2 linked regions of the Homo sapiens genome follow. The protein of the gene in region 1 purifies or fractionates together with the protein of each later gene. This does not show direct contact. Each region holds a gene or a part of one and is shown on either strand. Other genes may lie near its edges. The genes, in order: CFH and KLHL18.

Evidence for each region.
Region 2: the proteins of CFH (region 1) and KLHL18 purify together in Homo sapiens (affinity purification with mass spectrometry; 2 studies listed by BioGRID and IntAct, with this or other methods). This does not show direct contact.

The regions. Positions count from the first base shown.
Region 1 is NC_000001.11:196,645,346-196,657,081, forward strand, and holds the start of CFH (complement factor H isoform a precursor), read left to right. Parts: upstream 1-6,697; 5' UTR 6,698-6,772; coding exon 6,773-6,830; intron 6,831-11,736. UniProt on the Homo sapiens protein: Glycoprotein that plays an essential role in maintaining a well-balanced immune response by modulating complement activation.
Region 2 is NC_000003.12:47,325,667-47,337,367, forward strand, and holds part of KLHL18 (kelch-like protein 18), read left to right. Parts: intron 1-4,284; coding exon 4,285-4,483; intron 4,484-7,490; coding exon 7,491-7,651; intron 7,652-9,016; coding exon 9,017-9,153; intron 9,154-10,853; coding exon of another isoform or gene 10,854-10,868; coding exon 10,869-11,091; intron 11,092-11,701. UniProt on the Homo sapiens protein: Substrate-specific adapter of a BCR (BTB-CUL3-RBX1) E3 ubiquitin-protein ligase complex required for mitotic progression and cytokinesis.

The sequences.
Region 1 (11,736 bases):
AAAATTTATTATAAAACTATTGTAATCAAAACAACATGGTGCTGGCATAGAAACAAACATATTTATCAACGAAACAAGATAGAAAGCCCAGAAATAAACCCATGCATTTACGGCCAATTGATTTTCAATAAAGGTGCCAAGAACACACAATGAAGAAAGGACAGACTCATCAACAAATTGTATTGGGAAAATTGGGTATCTGTATGCAGAAGGATTAAATTGGATCTTTATCTTACACTAGATACAAAAATCAACTCAAAATGGATTAAAGACAAAAAACTGTAAAATTACTAGAAGAAATGAGTTAAAATCTCCACAATATTGCAATTTATTTTTATTTTTATTTTTTTAGTGTCTCTGAAAGCACAGGCAACAAAAGTGAAAATAGACAAATGGGATTTCATCAAACTAAAGAGCTTCTGTACAGCTATGGAAACAAATAACAGAATGAAGAGAAAGCCTATGGAATGGGAGAAAACATTTGTAAACCATACACTTGATAAGGAGTTAATGTCCAAAATATATAAGGAACTCTAAACAACTCAATAGCAAGAAAACAAATAACATAATTTAAAAATGGGCAAAGGAACTGATCAGACATTTCTCAAAAGAAAACATACAAATAACTAGCAGGTTCATGAAAAAAATACTCAACATCAATAACTATTAGGGAAATGCAAATTAAAACCACAATGAAATATCATAGAAACACAAAATATAGTAGGTATAGTCATTGTGTGATAAAGTCTTTGTTACCTTGAATTTCTACGTTTTTGTTGAATACTTTTTTGACTTTTCCTTCATATGACACCATTTTATAATATTTTCAGTGTACATAAAATAGAAAAAATAATTCAGTCTTTCTTTTAGTATGTTTGATTTAAATTTGTTTCTTGTTATGTGGAAATATTTGAAGTCATTTCAAGTTCACCACTTATGTCTAAACATTTTTAAGATTGTCATCAAATTTCGGAAAAAATCCTGTCAGATTTCCCTGACATAATAAGCTCCAAGGTTTCAGGACATTAAAAGAGTTCTAATGATATAATTAATATTAAATGTTCTTTAAATTGAAACATTGAAAACTAGTTTGACCTCAATGTCTTCATTTCAAAGGTGCGTTGTAAATTTTATGGTATTGTTATTGATGCCAATATATTGTGAATGACTTGAGCAAGTTTTCATTTTTACTAGGAGAAGAATCAATGAGAATGGAATCATCCACTTAAAATTTTACACAGCTGATCATAGTCTTTATACTTTTTAATCTTGTTTCTCCTTCACTACACATAGACTTCTGGTGTCGGGCATATTCATATGTGCTGTCTTCAGACACTGAAGTTTTGTGTTATGATGCAAATTGATTTGGCACAGGGGTGGTAGGAGTATTCCTGGAAGCCATTCTTACACTTGGAGGACCATCAGTTATCAAATTATATTTAATTGAGACTGTAAAATATACCACATAAATCTCAAACTAATAGCATTCTATGTGTAACTTTTTCTTGCATCCTTCAAATGCCTGAAACTGTAATGTCAACTGAATCAGTGGAAATGCAATGAAGGGGAAATCAGCATAGAATAAGAGAGACAGCCGTTCATTCTCTTGCAATTAAGAGATTAATTCTCTTCAATTTTTTACAAAAATAGATGACCATGCAGAAACGTTATTAAGGGCCAGCTCAGGTCCTTGATGGTGTCTGTTCAAATTAGGAGCCCTGAAGCTTAGACTTCATTAGCTTCATAGAAAAATCAAGCTCTGTTATAAATATTAGTTTTTACCCTTTTTCTTTACATTGAGATGCTGTGTAATAGTTGTATTATGAATTCATTCAGTAATTTATTTAATTTGTCATTTCTCTGAGTCCTTTTTCCTCCATCTATTTTAATACAACCGCCAAAGCACCATTACTTAAATAATGCATGACTTACATTTCTTCCTCAATTAGATCTATCAAAGATTCTTTATTGCCTGTAAAATAATTTGCAAGTTTTTGATCTGGAATTCAAACCATTCCTCATTTAAAGCTCCTTTTACTTCTTCCACAATTTCCTTGTGCAAAACCACTGCTCCAATGTGAGTCTTCTCATTAATTCTAGATTAGTCCCCACACTTTCCTATTCTTCACAGTCTCAGTGGTACTCTTCCCTTAAACTACAGTGTAATATCCAAGTGTTCTTAAAATCATCCCTGATCAAAACCAGTGTTCAGTAATTTCTCTTTCTTGTAAACTTCCTTCGAAAATTTTAATCATAACAGTCATTTGTTACTTAGCATAGATATTAACTATTTCTAATTTTTTAAATATGGATTTTTCTCTAATACAAATTTATATCCTTACTCTTCTAAATTTTTAATGTCCAAATATACATAGTATGTATTTGCTGAGAATGTGCCAACATGAATATTGAAAATAAATTGGATCCATTTCATGTTTAATCTTAGTATTAATAGTTAACTATTTACTATCTGGTCTTTCTAATGGTAATCTAATACTACATAATAATTTTATGAGTTTAAGGCATAATATGTTGCTAATTTTCTTATGTTCTGAATTTCTTTATAATAGACTTTTGTAGTTTTGAAAAGTATTGATGAAAAAAGGGAAACAAAAACACTCAATTGACGTTAGCCATCAGTCTTTGAAAAAAGGTAGGATAAAGAAAAAATAGTAAAAATAATACATCTGAAAGATATTTGTTGAAATTAATTCAAGAGGATTATTTCTACTTGGATAGTAGAGTGGCATTTTACATTCAACAATTGCAAATTAGGTGAAGATTTGTATAGCAAAATCATTCCTGTATGTACTTTAAATTATCCACAAACATATATATGTGTGTGTGTACCTTCAATACTTTTACAGTATATGCATAATTGTAAAATAAATAAATGTGAAGCATACACTAGAGTACATATGTGAATATTTTACTATATTTTTAAACACATATTTTAAACACAGACCACTGGATTTGATACCTGGCTCCAGCAATGTCTTGTGACCTTAAGGGAGTTGCTAAAATGTTCTGTGGTTCAGTTCAGTCATCTATACCTTTGAAAGAGTAATAGTCTCCCATTTCATTGTGTTGCATTAAGTATTGAATAAATGTGCTTAGATCTGTGCCTGGTATATAATTAACACTCAATAATATTAATCTTAGTAAGTTTCTGGAATACTCTCCAAGTGATAATATTGCTATTAGAATAGAAACCACTATTGGAAATTTAAGCCCCAGGTAAAATGTTTGGATTCATACTCAAACAGATAAAACTAAGGAAGGAATAAAGAAGAAGTTTAAATGATCTAGTATGTCAACATATGTGTTATCAGTTAAATCAAATTAAACTTCAGAATGATAGTTCAGAATTCGAATTTGCTTGATTATTCATATATCCATGCTATTTTATTTCTTATTTTTCTCAGAACAAATGACTAAGTCTAACTCTTATTCCTTATATTTTTATTACAAAAATAAAAATAAAAATAAAATAAAATGTAAAATTCACATTGGAAGCAAAATTAGAGTTAGGGTGGGCCATTTAATATGAGAAAATGACCAATGCAAAAGAAGGATATCACAATTCTAAATACGTATGCAAGCATCATCATAGCCCTAAAATATATAAAGATTCACAGCATTAAACAGGGAAATACACAAATCCACATTTATAATGGGAGATGTAATACACCCTTTCAATATCTGATGGAATAATCAGACAAAAACATAATAAAAATACAAAAGATTTTAACAAATTACAAACTTGACCTACTGACATAGGTAGAATTTTGACTATAATGGGCCATAAAGAAAGACTCATCAAATTTTAAAACAGTGTAATTATTTAGAATATGAAATTAAAAAAGAAATCAATTTAAAAGATAACTAGAAAGCCAAAGTTCCCAGAAATTTACACTTTAGAAAAGTTTTAAAAATAAACTATTACAGTAAGAAGAGCTTGGTGATATAGACCCACACATATCCAGCACCTGACTTATGACAAAGGTGAAAGCATGTCAGTACAGAGGAAAGAATGATACTTTCGTTGAATAATGCTATAACAATTGGATATCTCTATTTTAAAAATGCATCTGGAGCTTTTTATTATGCTATACACAAAAGACAATTACAGTTGTTCTAAAGGTCTTAAATGTGAAAGATAAAATAATTCTTTTAGAAGAAAAGCATTGTGTTCTAGGACTAGGCAAGCTTTCATTAAATAGGACACATAATGCACTAGTCATAGAAAAAAATTGAAAATTTGCTCTATTTTAAAATTAAGGAATTCTTTTTATTATTATAAAAGACATGTAATACTGAATAGAAAGAAAACCCACAGACTGGAAGAAGGTATTTATAATACATATTAATAAGATTATTTTCATATCTAGAATATATAAGTAATTATATATAAACAGTTCCTACACTCCAATAAGTCAAAGACAAACAACTCAATAAGAAAAAAATATGCAAAGGATTTGAATAGAACCTTTACCAAAGAGGGTATCTAAATGACCAGTTACCACAGGAAAGTTTCTCAACTTCATGTTAAGGGCAGGAGACAGGGAAATACTGGGTAGAAGAGGGTGGTCCCCAAGCAAAGGCCCCACCCTCAAGCCTGAAGACCTGTGGCCCTAAATGAGGACAGGCATTTCAGGTTTCACACCCAAAAAGTTGCCTTTTGGCCCGCCATGCCCCGCTGTCGTACCCCCATATAAATCCCAAACTCCAAGCTCCAGAAGAGACCTACAAGTGAGGAGACGGAGAGGCAAGCCGACAAACAGGCCTGCGATGGCAGAATGACACAGCAGAGAAAGAGAGGAGGGACATCTGGACTCCGAGGGGAGTTTGGCCAGGGACGGGTGGAGAAGAGTCTGGCCACTGGGAGGCCTGACACTGGGCGAAGGTCACCTTCCCACTCCATCTTGCTGACAGCCACCTCCACCACTCAATAAAAAGTTGCCCTCATCCCTCGAGCCCCCGTGTGATCCGATTCTTTTGGGACACTGGGCAACAGCTGGGGATATAGAGGGCTATTTCACTGTCCCACTACCCATGAGATAAGGAAGAGGGTTTGTTGAGCTGATTAACACATAAACCATTTGCAGATGGCAAAGCTAAAGGAGCACACTGTAACATACGCCCACTTGGGCTTCGGAAATCGCAGACACCCACCCCTAGATGCTGCTGTGAGGCCAGAGCCCGAAAGCGCTCACTCCGGTTCCCGCACCGGTGCATCTGTGTGCTCCCCCTCCCCGTAAGGGGTTTGAGCTGCAGGGCGACCTAACTGGCAAGCCGCACACCTGTTGCATGTCCTTCAAGGGGAATCAGGGATCTCTCACATTTCAATTAGTCATCAGGAAAATTCATATTATAACCACGGAGAATTATTGCTTTGTGTTACCAGAAAAGCTAAAATTACAAGGATTAAAATTACCAAGTATCTCTGAGGGTATGGAGCAACTTGGACACTGCTGATAGAAATGTCAAGTGATGTCAAGTGTTATAATCCATTTGGAAAATTGTCTAATTTTATCCATTACACCTAAACATAAATTATGTCCCAGTGTTTCACTACCAAGTATGCACTTACCAGAAATGTGGATTGTGTTTACCAAAAACCTCATAATATAAGGCCCATAGCAGCACTATTCATACCAGCTCCAAACTAAAATCTGCTCAAATGCTCACTAACAGGCACACAGATAAATAAAATGTGAACTATTCAAAAAGTGGAGTATTAAATCGCAATAAGAATGAACTATCTGTAACTACATCTAACAATGTGTTTGAATGGTCCAAACACAATTTTTGGTGAAAAACTCTAAACATAAGAATAAACTGCTTCTTTTTCATTATACAAAGTACAAAAGCCAGACAAATATATTCCATGTTCTTGAAGATCAGAATCGTGGTCTCTGTGTGTGGGGGGTGTGGGAGAGGGTTGAGAGGCGTATTGACTGAAAAGGAGTACTGGGGTTTTCTGGGATGTAATAATGTTCAGTGTTTTGACCTTGGTGGTGGTTTCACAGGTATCTTTACCTTCTCAATATCCAGCATATGATTTATGTTTTCCTTATACATATTACACTACAATACAAAGTTTTAAAAATCAGCATTTCAATTTGTTGATTTTTGGATTATTAAACCTATTTACGTCAAATGAGAGTGAGCCAGTTGCTTCATACACATATACAAAAAGTATTTAGAAAACTAATTTCATAAATTGCTAGAAAAGCAGACCCCCAAATTCATCAAGCACTGCATTCTTGGCAAAGTTTGTACACATTGTCTGGGTGCTGATTGTGAAAACATTGCCTAAACCAAAGTTTTGTATGTGATTTCTTTTAAAGTTTCTCTTATTTCCTGTTCTGAGGTTTATACACAATAGACCCGAATAGAGTTTGAATAATTGAAGGGTTTATGAAATCCAGAGGATATCACCAGCTGCTGATTTGCACATACCAAGAACATGAACATTTTCCAACGGAGAATTTCCCTAGCTTAATAAGAAAAAGTCCAAGAGCCGGTCACAGCATTAACATTTAGTGGGAGTGCAGTGAGAATTGGGTTTAACTTCTGGCATTTCTGGGCTTGTGGCTTGTGGTTGATTTTTTATTTACTTTGCAAAAGTTTCTGATAGGCGGAGCATCTAGTTTCAACTTCCTTTTGCAGCAAGTTCTTTCCTGCACTAATCACAATTCTTGGAAGAGGAGAACTGGACGTTGTGAACAGAGTTAGCTGGTAAATGTCCTCTTAAAAGATCCAAAAAATGAGACTTCTAGCAAAGATTATTTGCCTTATGTTATGGGCTATTTGTGTAGCAGAAGGTAAGATTAAAAGAGACTCTTTTCTGAAAACTGTATTATGAAACATTTGCTAATGATGCTTTTCACAGGAGTAATAAAAATTTGATTTAGAAAATGTGCTTAAGTATTCTGTAACTTGACAATTGAGTGGCTTTTGACATTGTTGAGTTTAAAAAATGTAAGAACCTTATTTGAATGGTATATCTAAATATTCATCATAATTATATTTAATATAAAATAGAATAAAATGTTTTAATAAACATTTCTGAAAAACTATGATCTGGAATAATCATTTCCCTTGTAATTATCATAAAATGTAATTTACTTTTTTGCTTAGGAGTATAACCAAAATGTATTATGTGAAAGCATTAAGAAGGATGTGAATATACATAGTCAATAAAAGCCATCAAATCATAATGATTAGATTTATTTCAAATATGATTTTAACTCTTCCTAAATAAAAATTCATTTATCATTTACAACTGATATTGTCATGACCTTAGAATTCTTGTAGACAAGTATTACTTGTATTATCAGAATAAAAATATTATATAAATTTGAAACCCAATTGAATATACAATATTTGTAACAGTTAAGTTGTTCAATAGAGATTTTTTTCCTGTAGTTGTATATAACATATATTCTTGAAGAGCAGTCTTTTGGAGTAGTGAATATGAATGTAGGAGTTTTTTTCTGACCTCAGTAAGACAATTTCTGGATTCATAATAAAATTTAATTATATCACTGCTTCTTGATAGATTAAAAAGCTTATTCTTGGAGGAGGTTTGCTTTCCTAGTTTTTGATAGGTAACCAGTTATGTGATAGATATTTGGTAAACATTTTTAAACTGAATGAATTACATATTATTCATAATTTCTAAAATCTTTTCACTTAGTAAAGAAATTTTGATTGAGTGACCATTACATAGCCTCTAGGAACTGAAGAATATTAGCAAATAATACAAATCTCTGTTTCAGTCTTCCAATCTAGAAAATAAAAGCAGATATATTCTTATAGTTATACACTTTGGTAATTTAAAAAATATTCAAATATGTTTAATACCTTTTGAAAGGTTGAATTATTTTCAGTTATATTTTCTAATGTTATTGCTTGTTCTTTGGCTTGTAAACTTTATATGTAGCCACTTTTTAAATGAAGAAAACAATTATTTCCTTGTACATATAAATATTATAATTAGTATTTTAAAATGAAACCTTTTTGTATTTACAAACAGTTCCAGAACAATGTCAATATTACCTATTGTAAAAGACATCTTTTTCTGTTTCTTTGTGTAAATATTTCTGTCTTTTCTTACTAAATTTATGGGAATGTTTCTAACGTTTCATACCTACATACTGTTTGCTCCAGTTTTACATAGATACCATTTGTCATATAAGGGAGATTTGTTTTATTTCTAATCTTTAAAATCAAGAATCAATGGCAAGTTTAATAAACAGTTTAAGTTATTAAAAAGTTGAATTTGAAATATTATTAAAATAGAGTACATCAAAGTATATGTGATAATTAAACAATAGTGATTTAAACATCTTATTTACATAATTGATTATTGCTGACTTGTTTCACTTTTATTTTATTTTTCATCAATGTGTGTTTAAATGTGGTATCAGTTTCTACTGGTGAATTGAACATCGGCACTATATATGTTATGGTGAAAATGATATAAATCTGATTATTTCCTAAAAGATAAAGCACAACTTTGTATTTAAAGCAATGCTTAGGCCAGCCTCATAATTTTCATAAAAGCACATGTAATGCAAAAGCCAATGGAGAAAAACTACATGAATTTTCAGTGGATATCAGACTCCTAATTTATTCCTTGTTTCCCAAATACTCTCTGAAACTAAACTAGTTCGAGATGTCCATCAGTTCTATTAATCTACCATATCTAAAAAATTTTTACTTAACAGAGTAGCTTTGATCATGAAAAATACTCACATATATTTCAATATTTGCTTCTGTTTATATTTTCCACATTGAATACTGAATACCAAATTGAGAAGATAGTTTGAATACTATCACAATCTGCTTTATTCAACAGCATAACATTTTAGCATTACTTCTGCTCTGTTAAGAGTGAACTTTCTTCAAAAAAAACACTATTCATTACTAAGAAAGAATTATAGCCAGCAGGAATAATTTGTAATTTCAGCTTTCTATTTGTTTTCTTTTTTTAATATATTGGGTACTACATAGAACCTTTCTAATGCAATATATTGTCTACAATAACATTTCCAATTGTGTAGGAACGTTAATTGCCTCCTTGTTTTAACAGTCTGGCTCAGGGGGTCACTGCAGGCTACTAAGAATTGGGTCAGATTTACAGGACAAAGTTTAAAATAACAGTTTCTCAATCGTACCACCTAATTTCACCTTTTTGAAATATAGTATGACCAAGGTTTTGAATATATTATGACCAAGCAGATTTTTTAGATTTAGGGTCTAACAATTGTGTACTATATGAAATTAGGCCACAGCCCAGAAATTCCAAGATGATTAAAGTGAATAAATTAAAACTCTACTGAAACATGTTCAAGTAAATACTGGCTGTGTTGTTTGGGAGACATGTTTTTTAATCCTGGAGATTTAGAGTGCAGAAACGTTATTTCAGGTCCCAGAAGACTTTATAGATCAGAGATTGATGGATTCCATTACAGTCAGAGAAAGGAGAATAGTGGTCTAAAATCCTAAATTGTATGTTTGAATTTCAGTGTGATAAATAAGAATTCCCCTTTGCTCCCCCAAACCCCCATATTTTCAGAGATAGTAGTATGTGTATTTATCTATATGGTGTGATTTAAATTGTGCGATGGCCCAATTGGCTTCAATATCTCATCTCCTCCTAAAATACTTTACGTGTTGATATTAATATTACTATAATTTCAACCAATCTGTCATTTACATGGAATGACAAATACACTGAATACATATTTTAGGATAGTTAAATTTAGTATTATTCATAATTTACTTTGAATTATTATCATCTGACAACTTCCCTGAAACAATTTCAGTGGGCGGGGGAGGGTAGAAATGGATGTTGATGAGGATAAGAATAGAACAAAGTGATTCTGGAAGATGGGGTTTTCCCAGGTAGGACAGATCTGCTGGTTGAAGTGCTATAGTGAGTGCTATAAGAGAAGGGGTAGAGAAAATGCCCACAGAAATGGCACGAGCCTGAGACGTCTGCCAAGGCAAGCTTTGCTTATTTTAAATTTAGGCATATCCTGGGAATGCATATGCTACTCTTTTGCCTACATATAATTTAAACTAAAAATGAAATATCTAAGTATTGCTAACTAAAATTATTCTTAGGTAGAAGTAAGTTCCCAAATATAAGTTCAAAAGCAGATTGGTAAATGTTCTTCATGTGTGGCCTTTGGTTTCTAAGATCTGAGCCAGTCTACATTGACCCACTTTTATTTGCTTAATCCTCGATTGTTTATTCTGCAGTCTTTTGCCACTTTTCATTCTTCCCAGTTATGCCTTCTCCTCCTCCCCACACACACCATCCCCCACCTGCCTAGGCCTTTGAGATTCTGCCACCCAATCTATCCCGTGCTCAGTTAACTAACGTGTACTTTACCCATTTCTTCACAAAACCATAGTACATGGAAAGGGGATGATGTAATTGACAAAAAAGTATTGCATTTTAGCTTAAAATTATAAGGAGTCATAAAAAGATAGCTCAGAGGAAATAAAGTAACTGAACATCAAAAAATGAAACAATAAAAAGGAAAGAAAAAACATTTGACAGAACACTTTTATTTCTTCTGACATTTTAACTTAGCCAAGTTTTTCATAAACCTTGTTAACTGGAAATGTAATAGATAGAAAAGTGATTATTCTTCCAGGCCGGGCATGGTGGCTCACACCTGTAATCCCAACACTTTGGGAGGCCCAGGTGGGTGGATCACCATGTCAGGAGTTCGAGACCAGCCTGACCAAAATGGTGAAACCCCATCTCTACTAAAAATACAAAAATTAGCCAGGCGTGGTGGCGCGTGCCTGTAATCTCAGCTACTCAGGAGGCTGAGGCAGGAGAATTGCTTGAATCAGGGAGGCGGAGGTTGCAGTGAGCTGAGATCATGCCATTGCCCTTCAGCTTGGGCGACAGAGGGAGATTCCATCTCAAAAAGAAAAAAAAAAAAAAGAAAGAAAGAAAGAAAGAAAAGGAAAAAGCAATATTCTTTCAGAAACTCCTGAACTGTAACATAAATTTAAGCTTAGGACACATAGGTCAGATGTACAATGGAATTACAAATGTTAGAGTTTCCTGGGTTCTTGCAACAGAGTTTTAAGTGCACTAAACAGTTATCACCTTGTCTTCTCTTATATTTTCTAGTCACTACTGTCTACTACGCTTTTTCCACAGGCTGTCCATAATCTACAGATATAATGGAAAGGCTTCCAGATAGTTTCATTGTTACTCATCTGTTCTTTCGCTCATTCATTTTTCCATCACTTTAACTTCCACAAGTACTACTTAGTAATACTTGGTACAATGTGTGTTGCGTTTTTTTTTTTTTTTCTCTATTTTCAGGGTCCTAATTGTACTGTCTCTTTGTGGCTGAGTTCGTTTTTTGTGACTGGAACAATAACTGGCATTAGAAATTAGCTATTCAAATACACATTTCAAGAAAGTTGTGGAATTTCAACCCATGTTCTGATAGTATCTTGTTTTATCTCTAATTATGACATACTTGTTATTCTATCCAACTTCATGTGACTATCGTCTATTCTCCTATCTGCTTTTTATGGTTCTGGAATTTTCTTCTTGCTCTTTTCACTGTTAAGTTGTTTGTTTGTTTGTTTGTTTGTTTTGAGACAGGATCTCGCTTTGTTGCCTGAGGCTGGAGTGCCCACGCTGGAGTGCAGTGGTGCGATCATAGTTCACTGCAGCTTCCAACA
Region 2 (11,701 bases), on another chromosome or scaffold:
TTCCCCCTGAGGCTGGGGTTGACTTTTTCTGGTGGCCCTATTTCCGGCCTTCAAATGTATGGGCCTCCTTGCTTTTAGGCAAGCACTGGAGCTGTGTATTTTCTTGCTTTTTTTTTTTTTTGAGATGGAGTCTCACTCTGTCACCCAGGCTGGAGTGCAGTTTCGTGATCTCGGCTCACTGCCACCTCTGCCTCCCGAGCTCAAGCATTCTCCTGCCTCAGCCTCCGGAGTAGCAGGATTACAGGTGCCTGCCACCATGCCCGGCTAATTTTTGTATTTTTATTTATTTATTTATTTTTGAGACAGAGTCTTGCTCTGTCGCCCAGGCAGGAATGCAGTGGCATGATCTCAGCTCACTGCAACCACCACCTCCCAGGTTCAAGCGATTCTCCTGCCTCAGCCTCCGGAGCAGCTGGGGCTACAGGCGTGTGCCACCACACCCAGCTAATTTTTGTATTTTTAGTAGAGATGGGGTTTCACCATGTTGGCCAGGCTGGTCTTGATCTCCTGACCTCAAGTGATCTGCCCACCTCGGCCTCCCAAAGTGCTGAGATTACAGGTGTGAGTCACCACACCCAGCCTTGGAGCTGTGTATTTTCTGAAATTCTCTCAGAGGTAGATTGGTACACCAAATGCGTCAATGAACCACGTCAGTAACCTGTTTAATTCAAGTCACCGCTTCCTGCCTCTGATAAAGCATTATGTCTTATGCTGTCTTCTTGCTTCCAAAGTCAAGCTGTGTCAGCAAGGAAGAAGGTTGTGATGTGGCTAATGAAAGACGTGGGTCTCCATCAACCCTGTAGCTGTAGGTTTATTTTCCCTCATATCTCCCTCCTCCTCTTGCATGGGCCCCTTTCCTGTGTGGCCGCTCTCCTTCCTTTTCCCCCACTAATTGCCTCACAAACAGGCTCCCCACGTCCCCCATCCTCTTGGATGTAAAAGCCCAGTTCAGTTAAGAAGGTGTGTTTTGGCTGGGTACGTTGACTCACGCCTGTAATCCCAACACTCTGGGAGGCCGAGGCAGGGTGGATCACCTGAGGTCGGGAGTTCGAGACCAGCCTGGCCAACATAGTGAAACCCCATCTCTACTAAAAATACAAAAAACTTAGCTGGCTATGGTTGCAGGCACCTGTAATCCCAGCTACTCGGGAGGGTGAGGCAGGAGAATCGCTTGAACCTGGGAAGTGGAGGTTGCGGTGAGCCGAGATCGTGCCATTGCACTCCAGCCTGGGCAACAAGAGCGAAGCTACATCTCAAAAAAAAAGAAAAAAAAAAAGGAAGGTGTGTTTTGGCCGGGCGTGGTGGCTCACGCTTGTTATCCTGGCACTTTTGGAGGCCGAGGCAGGCAGATCGCCTGAGGTCAGTAGTTGGAGACCAGCCTGGCCAACATGGTGAAATGCCATCTCTACTAAAAATACAAAAATGAGCCGGCCGTGGTGGCGCACGCCTGTAATCCCAGCTACTTGGGAGGCTGAGCCAGGAGAATCACTTGAACCCAGGAGGCAGAGGTTGCAGTGAGCTGAGATCATGCCGCTGCACTCTAGCCTCGGCAACACCAGGAGACTCCGTCTCAAAAAAAACAAAAGGGAAAAAAAAAGGTGTGTTTTGTGCTCAGTATTATGCCAAGCTAATCAAAGACACCCAAAAATAAGGTACGAGAATCCTAACCTGAGAAGGAGAGTTTGGAAATGAATGCCAATGGCTACGTTGATCATTGGCTCCCATATCCTTGGACTTGATCCAGCTTCTGCCCCGTGGCATTTTGAATCCTCCTCTCAGGTTGATGTCAAAGTGTTAGGAAATAGTGAAGCACATGCTGTAGAGGCCCAGGGAAGGTTTATCTTTATATCTGCCTTATATTTGTAAAGTGCTTTAACAAGTCTCATTCAATCACTATAAGTGCTTTAGGAGAAAGGCATTTGACAGATGACTGAGCTGACATTCTGACCTTCAGCGCTGTATTCCTCAGTGGCCATGAACTTTGCCTACATCTTGCTCTCTGCTTATGTTTCTGTGCTCTTCTAAATTCACATCAGTTTCCAAAGCAATGGACAGAGCAAGCTCAGGCTGGAATGAAATAACTATGTAGAATTTTGACTAGTCATAAAGCCAGGCTCCAAGGTACCTTGCCCATTCATTCAGTCCTTGATGGGTCAACTGCTAGGGGACAATAGTGAATATTGCTAAATAAATATAACCCTGTGCCTAAAACCTTAACGTCGGGGAAAAGACATAAACCTTTCTAATGAAGAAAAGCATGCCCGGCCAATTTTTAATCTGATCAATACCATCCCTACAGAGAATCAGTCATGGAGCCAAATAAGAATCCCCCAGGGTCTGCTGCTGTCACCAAGATTTTAGAATCGCACTGGGCTCGTTTGGAATTTTCTTAGATGCAACAGTAGTAAGAAAAACAAGCTGGGCACAGTGGCTCATGCCTGTAATCCCAGCACTTTGGGAGGCCAAGGCAGGAGGATTGCTCGAGCCTAGGAGTTTGAGACCAGTCTGGGCAACATAGGGAGATGCTTTCTCTACCAAAAAACACTTTTTTTTTTTTTTTTTAATTAGCTAGGTGTGTGGTTTCAGCTACTTGGCAGGTTGAGGTAGGAGGATCACTTGAGCTCAAGAGGTCAAGGCTATCATGAGCCATAATTGCACCACTACACTACAGCCTAGGTGACAGAATAAGACCTTGTCTCAAAAAACAAAAACAACCATAATAAAAAATTAAGACAGCCATTAACTTCATACCAGGTACCATGTATCATGGCTCAGCCCTAAGAGGTGGGTAGCTGTTGTCATCATCTTCTTTCAGGTGAGCAAATTACTGACACTTGGAAGAACATAACCCACCCAAGTTGCCCCATGAGCATCAGGGCCAGGATTTATCCTGGGTTTCTCTAGCCCTGATGAGTGTAAGTCTGCCAGGCTACCGTGGGAATGTGCACAAGAGTCCTGATTTCAATCTCAGCACCACCACTTGCTTATCTCAAGGGACTGTGAGCACCATTTTTGGTTTCCCTGAGCCTGTTTTCCATCTGTGAGTGCGTTACTACTTTACAGGTTAAGAAGATTCTGGAGAATGTGTATAAAAGGCCTAGCAAAACACTTGACTCACTGATGGTAAATAAATGATAGCTGCTGCTGTTGTTTCTGCTTGTCTGAACAATTAGGCCCGTGGAGTCTCTTTCTATCTAAAACAAGAAAAAATCTCAGCATTTTGGGAGGCCGAGGCAGGTGGGTTGCTGGAGTTCAGGAGTTCAAACCTGCCTGGACAACATGGTGAATCCCTGTCTCTACCACAAAAAGTACAAAAATTAGCCAGGCATGGTGGCACCTGTAGTCCCAGCTACTTGCAGGGCTGAGGCAGGAGGATCGCTTGAGCCCAGGAAGTCAAGGGTGATGTGAGCCGTGTTCACGCTACTGCACTCCAGCCTGGGGGACAAAGTGAGACCCTGTCTCAAAAAAGAAAAAAAAGGAAAAAAAAAGACAAGTATAAGAGTTCCCATACTAAAGAAGCCATCTGTCCGTGTTGTGTTTTTTTTGTTGTTGTTTTGTTTGTTTTTTGTTTTTTGTTTTGAGACGGAGTCTTGCTCTGTCGCCCAGGCTGGAGTGCAGTGGCGCAGTCTCGGCTCACTGCAAGCTCCGCCTCCTGGGTTCACAGCATTCTCCTGCCTCAGCCTCCCAAGTAGCTGGGACTACAGGCGCCCGCCACCACACCCGGCTAATTTTTTGTATTTTTAGTAGAGACGGGGTTTCACCGTGTCAGCCAGGATGGTCTTGATCTCGTGACCTCGTGATCTGCCTGCCTCAGCCTCCCAAAGTGCTGGGATTACAGGCGTGAGCCACCGTGTCCAGCCCTGTCTGTGTTTTTTAAACTCTAATTCTGTGACTTCAGTGCCTTCCTTGTGACCAAAGTTGAGATAATGCCCTGGACACTCAACCAGGAATTTCAGTGGTGGAACGTCTCAAACAGATTTTCAGTGCCTGCACTCCTGTGATGGTTACTTCTCACCTTCTGACAGTTACTTTACAGAACTACCCAGAGAGCTCATTCCACCTGACGCACAGAGCACCAGGCCCAAAAGGCAGGGACCTTTGAGGATAATCTTTCTTCTTAATTTTATACCTTTAGAAGTTGAGTCCCAGAGAAATACAGTTTCCAACAAAGCTGAGGTTAAGAATTTGTTTTCATTCTGTGGCTCTACCCAGAACCAGCCTGAGAATGATCAAAGATAACATCCTTTCTTCCTCTAATTTTTTTTTTCTTTCCTTATGCCAAAGGCTTCACCCAAAAAACTGCCTGGGTGTGCGCCAGTTTGCTGAGACAATGATGTGTGCTGTGCTGTACGACGCTGCCAACAGCTTCATCCACCAGCACTTTGTGGAGGTGTCCATGTCAGAAGAGTTCCTGGCCCTGCCCTTGGAAGACGTGCTTGAGCTGGTGTCTCGGGATGAGCTGAATGTCAAATCTGAGGAGCAGGTATGTGAGCCCAGTAGCAGTCTGTGCAGGTGACATGAGATGCTGCTCTTTATAGTCATTGTTTTGTTTATGTATTTTTTTACAAAGTTAAGATCATGACATGTATGTGGCTGTTGTATATTATTGGGCTTGTTTTACTGTATCATGCATTTTTCATGAAAACTTTCTATGTTTTATTTATTTTTTTGAGATAATATCTTGCTCTGTCACCTAGGCTGGAGTGCAGTAGCAAGATCATAGCTTACTGCAGCCTCATCCTCCCACATCAGCCTCCCGAGTAGCTGGAACTACAGGCACATACCACCACACCCAGCTAGTTTTTGTATTTTTTGTAGAGACCGGGTTTCACCATGTTGCCCAGGCTAGTCTTGAACTACTGTCCTTAAGTGAGTTCAGCCTCCCAAAGTGCTGGGATTATAGGCGTGAGCCACCGCACCTGGCCTCCATACATTTTAGTGTCTAAATAGCATTCTGTTGATTTTTGTCAACCTACTCACCTTATTCTTGCATGTTTGGGTTATTTCCAATATTTACTATTAGAAATAATCCTCCTGTGAACCAGAAACAGCAAGCATAGATAATTTTTTTGTTGTTTTTTTGAGTCAGAGTCTCATTCTGTCACCCAAGCTGGAGTGCAGTGGTGCGATCTTGGCTCACTGCAACCTCCATCTCCCAGGTTCAAGCAATTCTCCCGCATCAACCTCCTTGAGTAGCTGGGATTACAGGCATGCACCACCATGCCAGGCTAATTTTTATACTTTCAGTAGAGACGGGGTTTCACCATGTTGGCGAGGCTGGTCTCGAATTCCTGACCTCAAGTGACCCGCCCATCTTGGCCTCCCAAAGTGCTGGGTTTACAGGCGTGAGCCACTGTGCCCGGCCTAGTATAGATAACTTTTTGAAAGAATCTTGTTCTAAGGAAGAACAGAACATTGGGGCAGCTGTGGGAGGGGTCTGTGAAATCAAGAGGGGTTGTTGTTTGTTTGTTTTTGAGAAAGAATCTTGCTCCAACGCCCAGGCAGGCTGGAGTGCAGTGGCAACAATCTCAGCTCACTGCACCTCTGCCTCCCGGGTTCAAGCAATTCTCCTGCTTCAGCCTCCCAAGTAGCTGGGATTACAGGTGCCCGCTACCATGCCTGGCTAATTTTTATATTTTTAGTAGAGATGGGGTTTCACCACGTTGGCCAGGCTGGTCTTGAACTCTGGCCTCACATGATCCTCTCACCTTGGCCTCCCAAAGTGCTGGGATTATAAGCATGAGCCATCATGCCAGGCCTTTTTTTTTTTTTTTTTTTTTTTGTGAGACAGAGTCTCACTCTGTCACCCAGGCTGGAGTGCGATGGCACAATCTCAGCTCACTGCAGCCTCAGCCTCCCAGGTTCAAGCATTTCTCCTGCCTCAGCTTCCCAAGTAGCTGGGATTACAGGTGTGCGCCATCATGCCTGGCTAACTTTTGTATTTTTAGTAGAGACGGGGTTTCACTATGTTGGCCAGGCTGTTCTCGAACTCCTGACCTCAGATGATCTGCCCACCTCGGCCTCCCAAAGTGCTGGGATTACAGGCGTGAGCCACTGCGCCAGGCCCGACCTTTTTTTTTTTTTTTTAAAGTGAGAGAAATTACAGCATATTTGACTGCTGTTGGGAGTTTTCCAGAAGAGAGGGAAGAATTGATAATATTGGAGAAATGGGAGAGCAGTTGTTGGAATGATGTTCTGGAATAAGTGAGGACAGTCTAGGGCATAAGGGTGTGCATCTTTGATAGGAGCACAAGCCATCCATATCCACAGTAGCAGGAGGGAGAGCTGGGGCACACGCCCAGGGACGGGGGACAGGTAGATTCTTACTGAAATTCTCTTCTGATTTTCTATTTTCTCACCTGAGAGTGAGGATGAGGGACGAAGGTTAGAAACTTAAGGAAGGCCGGGAGCAGTGGCTCACGCCTGTAATCCCAGCACTTTGGGAGGCCAAGGTGGGCAGATTTGTTGAGCTCAGGAGTTTGAGACCAGCCTGGGCAACATGGCAAAACCCCATCTCTACTAAAAGCACAGAAGTTAGCCAGGCCTGGTCCAGCTTAAACTCCTGGCCTGTAATCCCAGCTACTTGGGCTGAGGTGGGAGGATTGCTTGAGCTGGGAGGCAGAGGTTGAGGTGAGCTGAGATTGCGCCACTGCACTCCAGCCTGGGCGATGGGGCAAGACCCTATCTCCAAAAAAAAAGAAAGAAAGAAAGAAAAGAAAAAAGAAATTTGAGGAGGGATTAAAAGGTATGATTTATTTTCCTCTTTCCTCTAGAAAAGGGGGATGCTAGAGAGGTGAAGCGGGCTTGATAGGAGCCTGGGAGAAAAGTGGATCCTGGGCTTGGCAGCATAGACACTGTGGTTTCGAGGAAAAAGCCTCATTCCAAAAACTAGGTGTCCTGTCCCTAGCTCTTAAACTAATTAATATGACGGGGGGCGGGGGGGCAGCTCACATTTCTTTGAGTGATACATTTCATAAGGGCTGTAGGGCTTTAGAGGGAGAGGTCCTTGTGGTTGGAGCCATTAAGAAAGGCTCCTTGGAGAACATGGATCTAGAGCCAGGCCTTAAAAATAGGGGAGTGGGTTTAGATGAAGAGGAGGAGATGAGGGCATTTTAGATGAGGGGGGACAGTGTAAACAGGAGAACCAGCCCAGCCTTGCCGGAGTACAGAGAGGGTGATGGAGGGAGTTTAGAGGGAGCAGGGGTACAGGAGCAGCGGGAAGGGAAACAGGCATTTTGTTTTCACAGAAAGTAATAAGATGCCATTGATGATTTTTCACTAGGAAATCATAATCATAATGAAATTCAGGAAGCTGTTCTAGTAGCCTAGGAAGTAGAGAGAAATCAGGGATTTCAGAGACAAGTAGGAGAAAAGATTGATGGGCCCAAGGGACTGCTTCAGTATAGGAAGTGGAGGCATTGAGATTGGAGGCCTGGGGTGTGGCCTCTGGGTGGGAGGATTTGCTGCCAGAACATCCACTCTCATGACAGGTCTTTGAAGCTGCATTGGCCTGGGTCAGATACGACCGGGAGCAGAGGGGTCCCTACCTGCCTGAGCTGCTGTCCAATATCCGCCTGCCCCTCTGTCGGCCCCAGTTCCTTTCAGACAGAGTACAGCAGGATGACCTGGTGCGTTGCTGCCACAAATGCAGGTGAGTGAGGGTGGACCTGCACAGGACACTGCCAAAGGTCTAAGCAGGGAAGAGGAGTTGGCCACCTGTTCCAGTTCTGGAAAGAAAGCATTTAGAGTGATCAGTCTAATTCATGGCACACAGATTGGTCTGCCCTCTGTCTAGAAGCTGGAACAGGAAGTGTGAAGAGCCCGAATCTTATGCCTTGGGCAGAGAGATGTGCCATGTGGGAGCATCAAAGCAGAAAGGGCTTTCCCCTGCTGAGTTATCTGAGGATTTTCCAGCATCTTTCCCCACTGAGCTATTTATGAATGTGCAACCATCTTTACTGCCTGCTCTGACCCTGTCCACACCAGCAGCTCACTCAGTGGCGCAAATGGGACTTCCTGGGGCTCATTGCCCTCTTCAGTAAATATTAGTCAGTGCTGTGGGCATGGAGGGCCTCTGCCAGGTGTAGGCTTTACATCTACGATGATGGGCAAGGGGCAGACATGTTTACCAACACATGAAACTTTTACCCAGAGCAAATCAATGACAACATGGTACAGCAGAGTTACCCAAACAGTTCAGAAGATGGCAGCCCTATAGGATGATTGCTGTAAAAGTAGAACAGCAGAGAAAAATGTTCATTCTCCTCCAGATTGCTTATCAAATTCACAACCCTGAAATATTTTTTTCTCCTTTGCTGATAAAAACTTTACACACATTCAGCTTTCTTTCATTTTCCAACTCCTGGTTGGGATCAGCTGGTTCAGGAGGAAGTAAGTGCCTGTCCATGGCAGATGGTGTGAAGGTGTGTGTCAGGATGGGGTGGAGTAGTGTCTGGAGGTAGCTAGGGCCCAGTGACCAGCGGTCTCAAGGGTGCTGTTGAGGAGTTTGGACTTTATTCTGTCGGCAGTGGGTGGCTATTGAAGGTTCTTAGCTTGAACTCTAGTGTGGAAGTGGAATGGAGGGGCAGGCCTGAGGCAGGGAAATGTGTCAGGAGCTGCCACCGTGGAGATGAGTGGTGATTAATTGCAGGTTGCAAGCCACGGTGCAGTCGTAGGGATGGAAAGGAAGGGCTAGGTCTGAGTGGCAACAGGGTGCATGCTGCTTGTCGAAACTCCCAGGTCCAGCCATTTTGGCCACTACCTTGTTTTTCTCATGCCTAATCTACACTAGCTGAGGTGGTCTTTGCTTGTCTTGCCCCTTTAATTTTGAGTATATCTCAGTAGCCATGTATGATTTTCCCAGAACTCACCTGGTTTCTTTGAGACCAGACCTTCCAGAAGGCTTCTCCTCCCAGGTTTCCCCTGCAGTTGGCAGTGGAGAGCCAGGCTCAGAGATGCAAACGAGGACTAAGTCAGGGGGATACCTCCTGTTCTAGCATCTTCCACCTTATTCTAGGGACCTGGTAGACGAAGCAAAGGACTACCACCTCATGCCAGAGCGCCGGCCCCACCTGCCAGCTTTCAGAACCCGGCCACGCTGCTGCACATCCATCGCTGGACTTATCTACGCTGTAGGGGGCCTCAACTCAGCAGGTACCTTGCGGCTCCCCTTTATAGACCCTCCTCTTGGACTCCATGGATGAGGAAGCACCAGACAAATTAGCCTGGCCCTTCTGGTTTCTCTGTTTTGTACTGTCACCACCCTTGCCCCTCTTGATTTTATACAATTGCTCTACAGTTAGAGCATGTCACATATTCATGCCATTGAATCAGAATATCAGTGCTAAAGAGACCTTCTAGAAATCTTTGAGGCCTAGCCTTCTTACCTGACAAGTGAGGAAATTGAGCCCCACAGAACTTTCACTATGTTCATACAATTGTTTTTGGCAGAGCAAGGACTAGAACTTGGGTGTTCTGATTCCTGAGCCAGCACTTTTGCCCTAATATCACATTGGCTATGGTATAGCATCCTTCAGCCCCGGATAGGATACAGTCAGAGACCCAGTTCCATACCAGGCTATTCACATTTTGTCATATGGATCTCTGGGGTTAGACTGAGAAAGTCCCCAAGAGAAAGATTATCCAAATACACAGGGTCTACCACTGTCAATAATACTTTTTACTCTTCAGCCCCACCCCCTGTGAAACACACACATGCTTTACAGTCCGTGGGTTATTGGCAGTTTTTGAATCTAAGAGTAAGGTTTTCAGAAAGCTGCATGGCCTCCCAACTTGGGGGCAGTTGGTGGGCACTCCCAGGCAGTTTTGTTTTTATTTTTTATTGTTTTTAATTTTTTTGAGATGGAGTGTCACTCTTGTCACTCAGGCTGGAGTGCAGTGGCGCAATCTCAGCTCACTGCAACCTCTGCCTCCCGGGTTCAAGCAATTCTCCCGCCTTAGCCTCCTGAGTAGCTGAGACTACAAGCTCATGCTACCACGCCCAGCTAATTTTTCTATTTTTAGTAGAGATGGGGTTTCACCATGTTGGCCAGGCTGGTTTTGAGTTCCTGACCTCAAGTGATCTGCCCACCTTGGCCTCCCAAAGTGCTGGGATTACAGGTGTGAGCCACCGCACCTGGCCCAGTTTTGTTTTTAATTGAAGGTTAATGAGAGTTGGGTACTAGCTGCTGCTTGTTAATCAGAGGGCCTGGAACAGGTAAATCCTCAACTCAGTGCACGCTGGAGCGGCGTGCAAATGAAATGCTAAGTGCCCCATAGCAGCATACCACAGGAAGAGGGGGTTATTTTGTTTGATCATCACAAAAACCTGATGAAAAAGGTAGGGCTGGAATGATCATTCCTTGCTACTATGACTATTTATTGAGCGCAAAGTTTATTCTAGAACCATGCTAGGTGCTTTACCTGTTATATCATTTAATCCATAAAGATTATCTCCATTTCACATGTGAAGCAGAGGGTGGGGACACAAAGCCCCTTGCCTTGGGTCACCCCCTAGCAAATGAAAGCACTGGAGCGCATGCCCGTCCCTCTGGCATGCCTCCTGCCTGGAGGAAATATTGTATCGATTCACCTATACCTTTGGCTTTAAGCAGGTGGAGTACCTGATTGTAACTGAAAACTACCCTCTCTAAAAAATAAATACCTCCTGTCTGATTCTGATTTTCCTTAAAGAATTAGGTTTGAGGTGATCATGGCTGAAATTTCTTAGTGGGCCCTTGTGCCTTGAGTAATTCTGTGGGAAGAGCTAATAGAATTGAGTCGAATGTTCCATATAATCAATGCCCAATAGCTGTGCTCTAAACAAGTGGTCTCATTTGTTTTAATTTGAGTAGCAAATTTTTATGCAGGTGATTCCCTGAATGTGGTGGAAGTGTTCGACCCCATTGCCAATTGCTGGGAGAGATGCCGTCCCATGACAACAGCCCGCAGCCGCGTTGGCGTGGCTGTGGTGAACGGGCTTCTCTATGCCATCGGAGGATATGACGGCCAGCTACGGCTGAGCACTGTGGAGGCCTACAACCCGGAGACAGACACATGGACCAGAGTGGGGAGCATGAATAGCAAGAGAAGGTATTCTGGAAGCCACGTGCAGCCCGAACATACACACTGAGCACCTGGGGAGCGCCATGCTAGACGAGCAGGGGCACACAGTAGAGTAAAATACAAGCTTTGGCCTGGGAGTTTCCTGCAGCCAGGCCAGCCACTGCCAGTACCTCCTGGGAGCGAGCCCCCATCTGCTTAAAAGTAAAATATCCACCTTGTCCTTTGGGGAACTTGGGGAGACCAGGCATGGACATGTGGAAGTTGTGTTGTTATTTTAAGTGCCAGATAAGGACTGGAAATGTGTATTATGGAAGATTCGAAGAGGGAGAGAAACTGGACTGGAACTTCTGGAAGATTTCAGGGAAGAGGTGGGATTAAAGTTGAAACTTGAAGAATAAGGAGGATTTACCTTTATTAGTGATAAAAGGAAATCCAAGGTGTTTTTCTGTGTACCTTCCTTCCCCAGGACTCCCCTCACACATGCACTTCCACTACCTGGGGAGAATACGAACCAAAGCAATGTTCTTTTATTTAGGTCACACACATTCTCCCAGACAGGAGCACATAGGTATTTGCAAGGTGGGCCAAGTTGATATGTCACTCAGTACATTCTAGCTACCTGCTCTCTCCACTTCTC